2 separate regions of the Homo sapiens genome follow, and region 1 is linked to region 2. The links come from fine-mapping of genetic effects on gene expression. Tissue or cell type: whole blood. Region 2 holds a variant in brackets; the other region holds the start of a gene. All regions are shown on one strand. Distances are between the middles of the regions. Region 1 holds the start of CUEDC2 (CUE domain containing 2). Region 2 has its middle 24 kb from the start of NOLC1.

The links. PIP is the estimated chance that this variant, and not a neighbour inherited with it, causes the effect. A credible set is the group of variants that fine-mapping cannot tell apart.
Region 1: it holds the start of CUEDC2, and the variant in region 2 is the best candidate, but not a certain one, in a credible set for the expression of CUEDC2 in whole blood (INTERVAL, PIP 0.81).

Annotation. Positions count from the first base shown.
Region 1 is chr10:102,430,094-102,434,478 of GRCh38, forward strand. It overlaps CUEDC2 (CUE domain containing 2), which reads right to left and starts at 2,481. Exons shown (of 9, transcript NM_024040.3): 1 at 2,433-2,481. RefSeq lists enhancers at 2,446-2,575, 2,746-2,915, 2,847-3,482, 3,483-4,116.
Region 2 is chr10:102,174,197-102,178,581 of GRCh38, forward strand. No RefSeq gene overlaps it. Among named protein-coding and RNA genes, the nearest start is that of NOLC1, 24 kb to the left of the region's middle. The variant T/C (reference allele first, on the strand shown) is at 2,671.

The DNA.
Region 1 (4,385 bases), 260 kb after region 2:
TGGTGGTGACTGAAACTTGGCTGAAAGCCCAGGTTTTCTTTTTTTTTTTTTAATTTTATTTATTTATTTATTTATTTATTTATTTTACTTTTGAGACAGAGTTTCACTCTTGTTGCCCAGGCTAGAGTGCAATGGCGCGATCTTGGCTCACCGCAACCTCCACCTCCTGGGTTCAAGCGATTCTCCTGCCTCAGCCCTCCTGAGTAGCTGGGATTACAAGCATGTGCCACCATGCTCGGCTAATTTTGTATTTTTAGTAGAGACAGGGTTTCTCCATGTTGGTCAGGCTGGTCTCGAACTCCCGACCTCAGGTGATCTGCCCGCCTAGGCCTCCCAAAGTGCTGGGATTATAGGCGTGAGCCACCGTGCCCGGCCTGAGAGCCCAGTTTCTAGGGAAGAAGCTTCTCAGGGATGTGTCTCATGCTTCTGGGTTTTTAGCCAAGGCCTGGGGGCCAGGGAATTTTTAGGAAACTCTTCACTGTCCCCAAATAAAAAGACTTGCTCCCCTAAGCTTTTCTCTAGTTTGTATTCCAAGGGAACATCCTCCCTCCCTCCTCCTGTTTTTGGTCTACCCAAACTTCACCCAGGCTTCTAAGCTCTTTTACCCTTCCCCATCCCCGGTAGCCTTCCTAAGTACATCCTTCCTGCTCAGGGGCTCCTAATACTTCTCCCCGCATAGCCCCTGAGTTGGGGAAGATCTGGTCTGCCAGACTGGTTTCCTAAGTAGCACCTAAGCAGCCACCCTTCTCCAGGGTAAGAACATGATTTCCATGAGACATTTCAAATTCCAGATGTAGCCCACAGAACCCCATTGCTTCTTGGGGGCCGCAAATTAGAGATCATTGGTTGATGGTGTCTACCAAATGTGACTGTCATCCTGTCATGAGTCCTGCCTAAATGCCTCCGATGATGGTAATATTAGCATTTATTGCCTCTGCTTACGAGGCATTGTCCTAAGCACTTTTACATGTATTAACTTACCTAATCCTTACAATAACTCTAAAATGTAGATACTGTTATTCTCCCCATTTTATTTTATTTATTTTATTTATTTATGTATTTTTGAGACGGAGTCTCGCTCTGCCATCCAGGCTGGAGTGCAGTGGTGCGATCTCAGCTCACTGCAACCTCCACCTCCCTGGTTCAAGCAATTCCCCTGCCTCAGCCTCCTGAGTAGCTGGGATTACAGTCGCATGCCACCATGCCTGGCAAATTTATTTTGTATTTTTTAGTAGAGACGGGGTTTCACCATGTTGGCCAGACTGGTCTCGAACTCCTGACCTCAGGCAATCCACCCGCCTCGGTCTCCCAAAGTGCTGGGATTACAGGCATGAACCACCGCGCCCGGCCGTATTATCCACATTTTACCTGAAAGGAAATGAAGGCACTATGAGGTTAAGTAACTTGCCCAAGGTCACAAGGCAAGTTAATGGCAGATTTACACCCAGGCTGTCTGGATCCAGAACCCTCACTGTTAACCACCACACTACATCACCTCTCACGATGCAAATTGTGTGGCCCCATCCTATATTCTGAATCTCCTCTCCTGCCTGGCTGGCTATATTGTCTATTTCAGAATCTTTGCTCACACCACTCTCCCAGCCCAGAGCATCTGTCCCTCTGCCTCTCCAAATCTCATTCTGCAGGACTCCCTTTCTGCAGCCAACCCTAACTGCCCCACCTTCACTGCTCCCAGCTAGCCTGGGAGCTTCCCAAGGGCAGCACAGGCCTGGACCCTCCAGATGCTAGATAGAGACACTGTGGACAAATTTAAGTGAGAGTGGGGTAAGAAGTACTATGCTGCTCCCTTGGGGTGGGGAGGTGCTTAAAGTGGAGGGAGAGCAGGCCATGTGGGAGGAGGAATCCTGGGAGCTAGTGTGAAAGGAGTCCTAGCGAACTTCTCAGGGAGGCAGCAAGGGGTCTAGCATGGAAGGTCTTCACTGCTTCTCCCAGCCCCTGTGAAGCCCGGTTCCTGAGGCCCTGGACCCATAACGCAGGCCCCAGAGGATATCATTGTCCTCTGATACCCAAGTCAGACCTTAGAGGCACCAAGGGCATTGAGGGGAACAAGGGATCCCTGCATCCAAAGTCAGGCGGGAGCACAAACAGGGAGGGCGAGCACAGGAAGTGGGACCGCGATGATGGACGACCCCTGAAGCAGCAGCTCCCTAAACCCGCTAGCGGGACACCCGTAAGCGTCCAGAATAGTGGGCCCGAAGGCACAGGGATGCGGCTGTGGCCTTGGAGGACACATGACGAGGCAGGCCTGAGCAAACTGGATGTGCCTTGATACAGGCCACGGCGAGAATCAGAGATGGGGGTCCGACGGGCCCCGGGGGGGGTACCGTGGGGGAACACATCGGACGGGTACCCTGGGTCAGCGCTCTCCGCGACTCTCCTAGCCCTGGGCCGGGGGCAGGAGGGGAAATCACCTGCTCCGTCGGGCGCCGCCGGCGACTTGTCCCGCGCGGTGCAGCTCTCATCCCCCAGCCCCACCAACGAGATCAAAGGCGGGGCCCAGAGCGGTTCCCTTCCAGAGGCGCCGTGGCGGCCATGTTTGAGAAGGGCAAGTTGCCCACAACAGGGCGGAGCTCCTGCTCTAATTCTCTAACGTCCCAGGGCTATGGACGGGCTCCCTTGGCGGCCAGTTTTGTTGCGCGTAGGGAGGCGTTAGGCGTGAAGGTCTTGAGAGGGGGTGGAGTCGAAGTGGGTAGGACTGCATCCCCGTCTTGTTCCTTCTCATCCGTCAGAGACCCGAAACCTTTCTCTTTCTTTCTCTCTCTCTTTTTCTCGTCTCTCTCTCTCTCTCTCTCTCACTTTTTTTTCCTTTTCTTCTTCTTTTTTTTTTTTGGGAGGGAGCCTCGCACTGTCTCCCGGGCTGGAGTGCAGTGGCGCGATCTCGGCTCACTGCAACCTCCGCCTCCCGGGTTCAAGAGATTCTCCTGCCTCAGCCTCCCGAGTAGCTGGGATTACAGGCGCGCGCCACCACGCCCAGATAATTTATTGTATTTTTAGTAGAAACGGGGTTTCACCATGTTGGCCAGGCTGGTCTCAAACTCCTGACCTCGTGATTCGCCTGCCTCGGCCTCCCAAAGTGCTGGGATTACAGGCATGAGCCACCGCGCCTGGCCTCTTTTCTTTTCTTCTTTCTTTATTTTCCTTTCTTTCCCTCCCTCCCTTCCTTCCTTCTCTTTCTTTTTCTTCTTTTCTTGCTGTTACAGCCCCAGGCTGGAGTGCAGGTTCACGAGTGCGAACATGGCTCACTGCAGCCCCGACCTCCTGGGTTCAAGTGATCCTCCCATCTCAGCCTCTGGAGTAGCTGGAACCACAGGCGCGTGCCACCACGCCGAGCTAATTTTTTTTTTTTTTTTTTTTTTTGTAGAGACAGGGTTTTTGCCACGTGGCCCAGGCTGGTCTCTTAGGTACTGACTTCCCCACCCTGTCTGTACCTTTTGCATTCCCTTAACAGCAATGTCTCCCCTAGATTGGGGTGAGCTACAGGTCTGTGTCTCCGGAGGGTGGAGCCTGGGATTTTGGACGTGGTCTGGGAGAGGTGGAGTGGTAGCAGGTGCCAGGATGAGGATCCACCTGAGCCCTGTCATGGACAGCCTGTAGACCATGCCTACCCCCCGGGGCCTTCATCCCCCATGTTGGCAGGGCTGCTTGTCTAGGACAGGAGAGCTGAACTCCAGGGCCCAACAAGACTTCAACTTCCTCTTTTTGTTCCTGCTGCCACAGATTCCCGGTGCTGCCCTGTGGGGAAGCCCCACAGCCCTCCCCTCTTGGGAACCCTGAAATGGGTCACAAGGGGAAGAGTCCCCTTCAAGGATAAAATTTCCCATCCCCCATCAGCAGGGATGAGCCCTTTTTAGTGCTAGTTCCTTCGTGGGGTGCTGGGGACCCGGAAGCTGTCCCTGCCCTCAGGGAGCTCACAGTCCAAGAGAGAAGTCCCATCTTTCCTCTCTCCTAGGGACTAAGGCAGTGCCAAGATACTATGCTGCAGTGGCTCACACCTGTAATTCTAGCACTTTGCAAGGCTGAGGTGGGAGGATCGCTTGAGCCCAGGAATTTGAGACCAGCCTGGGCAACATGGCAAAACCTCGTCTCTACAAAAAATTTAAAAAATAAAAAATTATCTGGGCATGGTGACACACGCCAGTAGTCCCAGCTACTCCAGAGACTGAGGTGGGAGGATCATTTGAGCCCCAGAGGTCAAGGCTGCAGTAAGCCGTGATTGTGCTACTGCACTCCAGCCTGAGTGACAAAGCAAGACCCTGTCTCAAAAAAAAAAAAAAAAAAAAAAAAGAAGAAGAAAAGAAGGAGAAGGAAGAAGAAGAAACTATGGAGAAAACGGGATGACTGCTTATTGCTTTCTCTTCCACCTC
Region 2 (4,385 bases):
GTGTTTTTTTCTTTTCTTTTCTTTTCTTTTTTTTTTTTTTTTGAGATGGAATCTTGCTCTGTCGCCCAGGCTGGAGTGCAGTGGTGCCATCTCGGCTCACGGCAAGCTCCGCCTCCCGGGTTCACACCATTCTCCTGCCTCAGCCTCCCGAGTAGCTGGGACTACAGGCCCCCGCCACCACGCCCGGCTCATTTTTTGTACTTTCAGTAGAGACGAGGTTTCCCCATGTTAGCCAGGATGGTCTCGATCTCCTGACCTCGTGATCCGCTTGCTTCGGCCTCCCAAAGTGCTGGGATTACAGGTGTGAGCCAGCGCGCCCGGCCGTATGTGTGTTTTTAAAAAGGATTTTATTAGGGAAATTTTCACATACTTACCAAAGTAGGAAGAACAGTATAATTAAGCCCCATCTTCCCATCCAGCTCTTAACAATACACAGCCCATCTTATTTCATCTCTTATTAGCCCAACTCATTCCCCTTCCCACTTCCCATTGGATAATTCTGAAGCAAAAACAAGACTTTTTTTTTTTCTAAGCAGTCTCACTCTGTTCCCCACCCTGGAGTGCAGTGGTGCAATCTGGGGTCACTGCAACCCCAAGCCTGCAACCTCCAGCCAGGCTCAAATGATCCTCCCATCTCAGCCTCCTGAGTAGCTGGGACTACAGGTGCACACCACCATGCCCAGCTAATTTTTCATCCCATCAGAACAAGTAAACATGTGGGCCCCACGGCTCTTGTGGGTACTGTCTCCCTCATGGTGAACAAGCCTCCTGGTGTTTCGTCCAAGAAAAGGAAGGGTGTCAGCGGAACCACAGTCCTTTTTCATTTATAAACTGCCTCTTCATGTTGCCTGCTCAAGTTTCCACGTAGAATTGCTATCACTGTGGCTCTTTATTTTTCTTTTTCTTTTTTTTTTTTTTGAGACGGAGTCTTGCTCTGTTGCCCAGGCTGGAGTGCAGTGGCGCGATCTCGGCTCACTGCAAGCTCCGCTTCCCGGGTTCACGCTATTCTCCTGCCTCAGCCTCCCGAGTAGCTGGGACTACAGGCGCCCGCCACGGCGCCCGGCTAATTTTTTGTATTTTTACAAAATACAAAGTAGAAACGGGGTTTCACCATGTTAGCCAAGATGGTCTCGATCTCCTGACCTCGTGATCCACCCACCTGGGCCTCCCAAAGTGCTGGGATTACAGGCGTAAGCCTCCGCCCCCGGCCCACTGTGGCTCTTTCTAAAAATCCTTCTATTTAACTGGCTCACTGAAATTAGTCATAGGAAACTTGTGATTTGGTGAAGAAGCATTCCTTGTAATAACCAAATGATGGGACGGTTTGCATAGCAACAGTGTTACACTTATGGGGGCCGTCTCTAGAATCCAGGAAGTCTCTGGATCTGAAGGATGAACAGTTCTTCCTGCTCTGAATGAGAGTGGACTCTTCCCCTCACCTCCAACTGAAACCACGAACACCCAGAATCTTCTGGGATTCTGACTTAAGAGTCCTTGTTATAGAAGACCTTGTTGCTATGGAACATGAAACTGTGTGTGTCAGATGGAGAGATTCCCTTAACTTAAGAGCCTTAAATAGCCCTGAAAGTACACCGGGACAGTTTGCCATGTAATTAAAATTAGAAGTGAATATTTTTAGGTGCCCTTGAAGCTTTCTGGGGACTCAAAATTATCAAGAGTCAGGGACAGTCCGAAGGAAGAACGTCTGTAAAAGTGGGTTCCTGGAAGTACAGACAGATGTGGCTTTTTGTAGAACTTGGTGGGGAGCGGTGCCTCGTAAGAGCGGAATGGCCTGGCGTAGCCAGTGCTTCCCGGCAACACGCAGCTCTGCCAGCCTCCAGAATTCCCCCGTTCTGAGCTTGATGCCCTTAGCCTGTCCCCCACCTCCTTCTTCCCCTCCCCTCTAGCCCTCTCACAGGGGTGATTGCTACCACTCTTTTCTTGGGCCTAGGCAAGTTTTAGAGGAGTTCTCAACCATTGTCACGAAGCCTGTGTGCTCCCTGGGCTGGATGGCCTGGGCTTGCGTGTGGCCCGAGGGCTCTCCTGGGGTCTTTTTCCCAGTCACCGTCCAAGCCACAGTGCACTCATTGGATGTATGTTCTTAACATAGCTCACTGCTTCTCTTTCTACATTAAAAAAAATCATTATTGCATTTTGGAAAGCAGTGCTTATCAAAAGCAACTTTTTTTTTTTTTTTTTTTTGAGAAACGGAGTCTCTCTCAGACGCCCAGGCTGGAGTGCAGTGCCACGCCCGGCCCAAAAGCAACTTTTAAAACCTATTTTATTGTTCCTTTAAATGTTCTCTCCCGCTGAAACTGCCTTGGGGAGGCTAGCAGCTGCTCTTCCATTTCCCCACATCAGGGTATTCTCCACGTCACTGAGTGGAGATGACTCCAGGTATGTTTAAAGACTGGACAATTCACCTGTACTGTGTAGGAAATTACCTCCTTAATTACCTGGTAGAATTGTCAGCAGACATGTTCATCCGATGATAGTACTGCAGTTTTCTATAAATAATTTGCTGACTTTTATCTAACCTGCACTCATGTACAGATTATTAAAAGTTTTAAAATGTAACTGATCAGTATTGATCAATCATTATCTTGACTTTTTTTTACCGTGTATATTTCTTTTTTCTTTTTATTTTTTTGAGACGGAGTCTCGCCCTGT[T/C]GCCCTGGCTGGAGTGCAGTGGTGCAATCTCGGCTCACTGCAAGCTCTGCCTCCCGGGTTCACGCCATTCGCCTGCCTCAGCCTCCCGAGTGGCTGGGACTACAGGCGCCCACCACCACGCCCAGCTAATTTTTTGTATTTTTAGTAGAGACGGGGTTTCACCGTGTTAGCCAGGATGGTCTTGATCTCCTGACCTCGTGATCCGCCCACCTCGGCCTCCCGAAGTGCTAACAGGCGTAAGCCACTGAGCCCACCCCCTATAGTGTATATTTCTAATCATATTCTTTAAAGCCAAGAGAACTGGTTGAATGAATGTTTATTTTCCTGAAGGTATTTTTAGGATAAAGCTGCCTAATGGCCTGTAAACTTTGCATATATATGTAGTTTGATACATATTGTCACATTTGAAAATCTTGTGAGTTGTAACTGGTTTTATACAAAATATCGAATAGTGGAAATTGTATAATTACAATCATGTAATTAAACTCCCCCCCCAAAAAATACCAAAATTAGTCGGGCGTGGTGGCATATGCCTATAATCCAAGCTACTCGGGGGGGCTGAGGCAGGAGAACCGCCTGAACTTGGGAGGTGGAGGTTGCAGTGAGCCGAGATCTCACCACTGCATGCCAAGCTGGGCAACAAGAGTGAGACTCCATCTCAAAAAAATTAAAGTTAAGCCTTTAAGGAAAAAGGCTTTACTTTTCACACTTAAAAGAATTATCAGGCCGGGCGCAGTGGCAGGCGCCTGTAGTCCCAGCTACTCGGCAGGAGAATCACTTGAACCCAGGAGGCGGAGGTTGCAGTGAGCTGAGATTGCACCACTGCACTCCTGCCTGGCGACAGAATGAGACTCTGCCTCAAAAAAAAAAAAAGAATTATCAGTATAGTAATTAGTTGGTATCATTAAACATCCAGTGAGTATCACCATCCAGTCAGTAGAGATGGGATTTCACCATGTTGCCCAGCCTGGTCTCAAACTCCTGGGTCCAAGAGATCTGCCCACCTCTGCCTCCCAAAGTGCTGGGATTATAGGCATGAGCCACCACACCAGGACTTTAAAAAATTTTTTTCTTGAATTGAGTAGTGCTTTAGAATTATCCATTAAGCTTCATGTTTATGTTTGCTGTATTTCACACACACATACAAAGTGTTGTTGTTGTTTTAAAGAAGAATGCTGTGTTTCCTTGGGACAGGTGAGGTGAGAGGAGAAACGTAGAAGGAGAAAAGTAGAGAGATGGAAAAAAGAGGGCTCTGAGGAATACAAAACCTGCAAGACAAAAGGGAAAAGAGTGGCTGTGGGGGCCGTGGACCCTGAGAAGGTGTTTCCAGGTTCTCCACAGAGGGACCCCAGACCTTGCATCTGCAAGCCCACTTGAGCTCCAGGCTTCTGGAGAGGTCTCCAGAGAGCGGGACTAGAAAGGCAGCCCCAGGAGTGATGATGGTGAGCCTGCCCGGGCCAGAGCAACTCCAGGACAAAAAGCAAAGGGGCCTGGGAAGTTGGAGAAAGTTTCTTTTCATTTTCTCTTTTTCATTTGAGAAAGGCAGCAGAGAGCAGTGGAAAGGACCAAAGGGCCCCGTGTCTGAATTGTAGCACTAGTAGTTGTGTGATACTGGGTTATGATACTCCATTAAATTTTTTTTTTTTACTCTCCTCTAATTTCTTTTACCAGACTCCATTAATTTTTATCTCAGCTTCATTATACAGGTTGAGTAT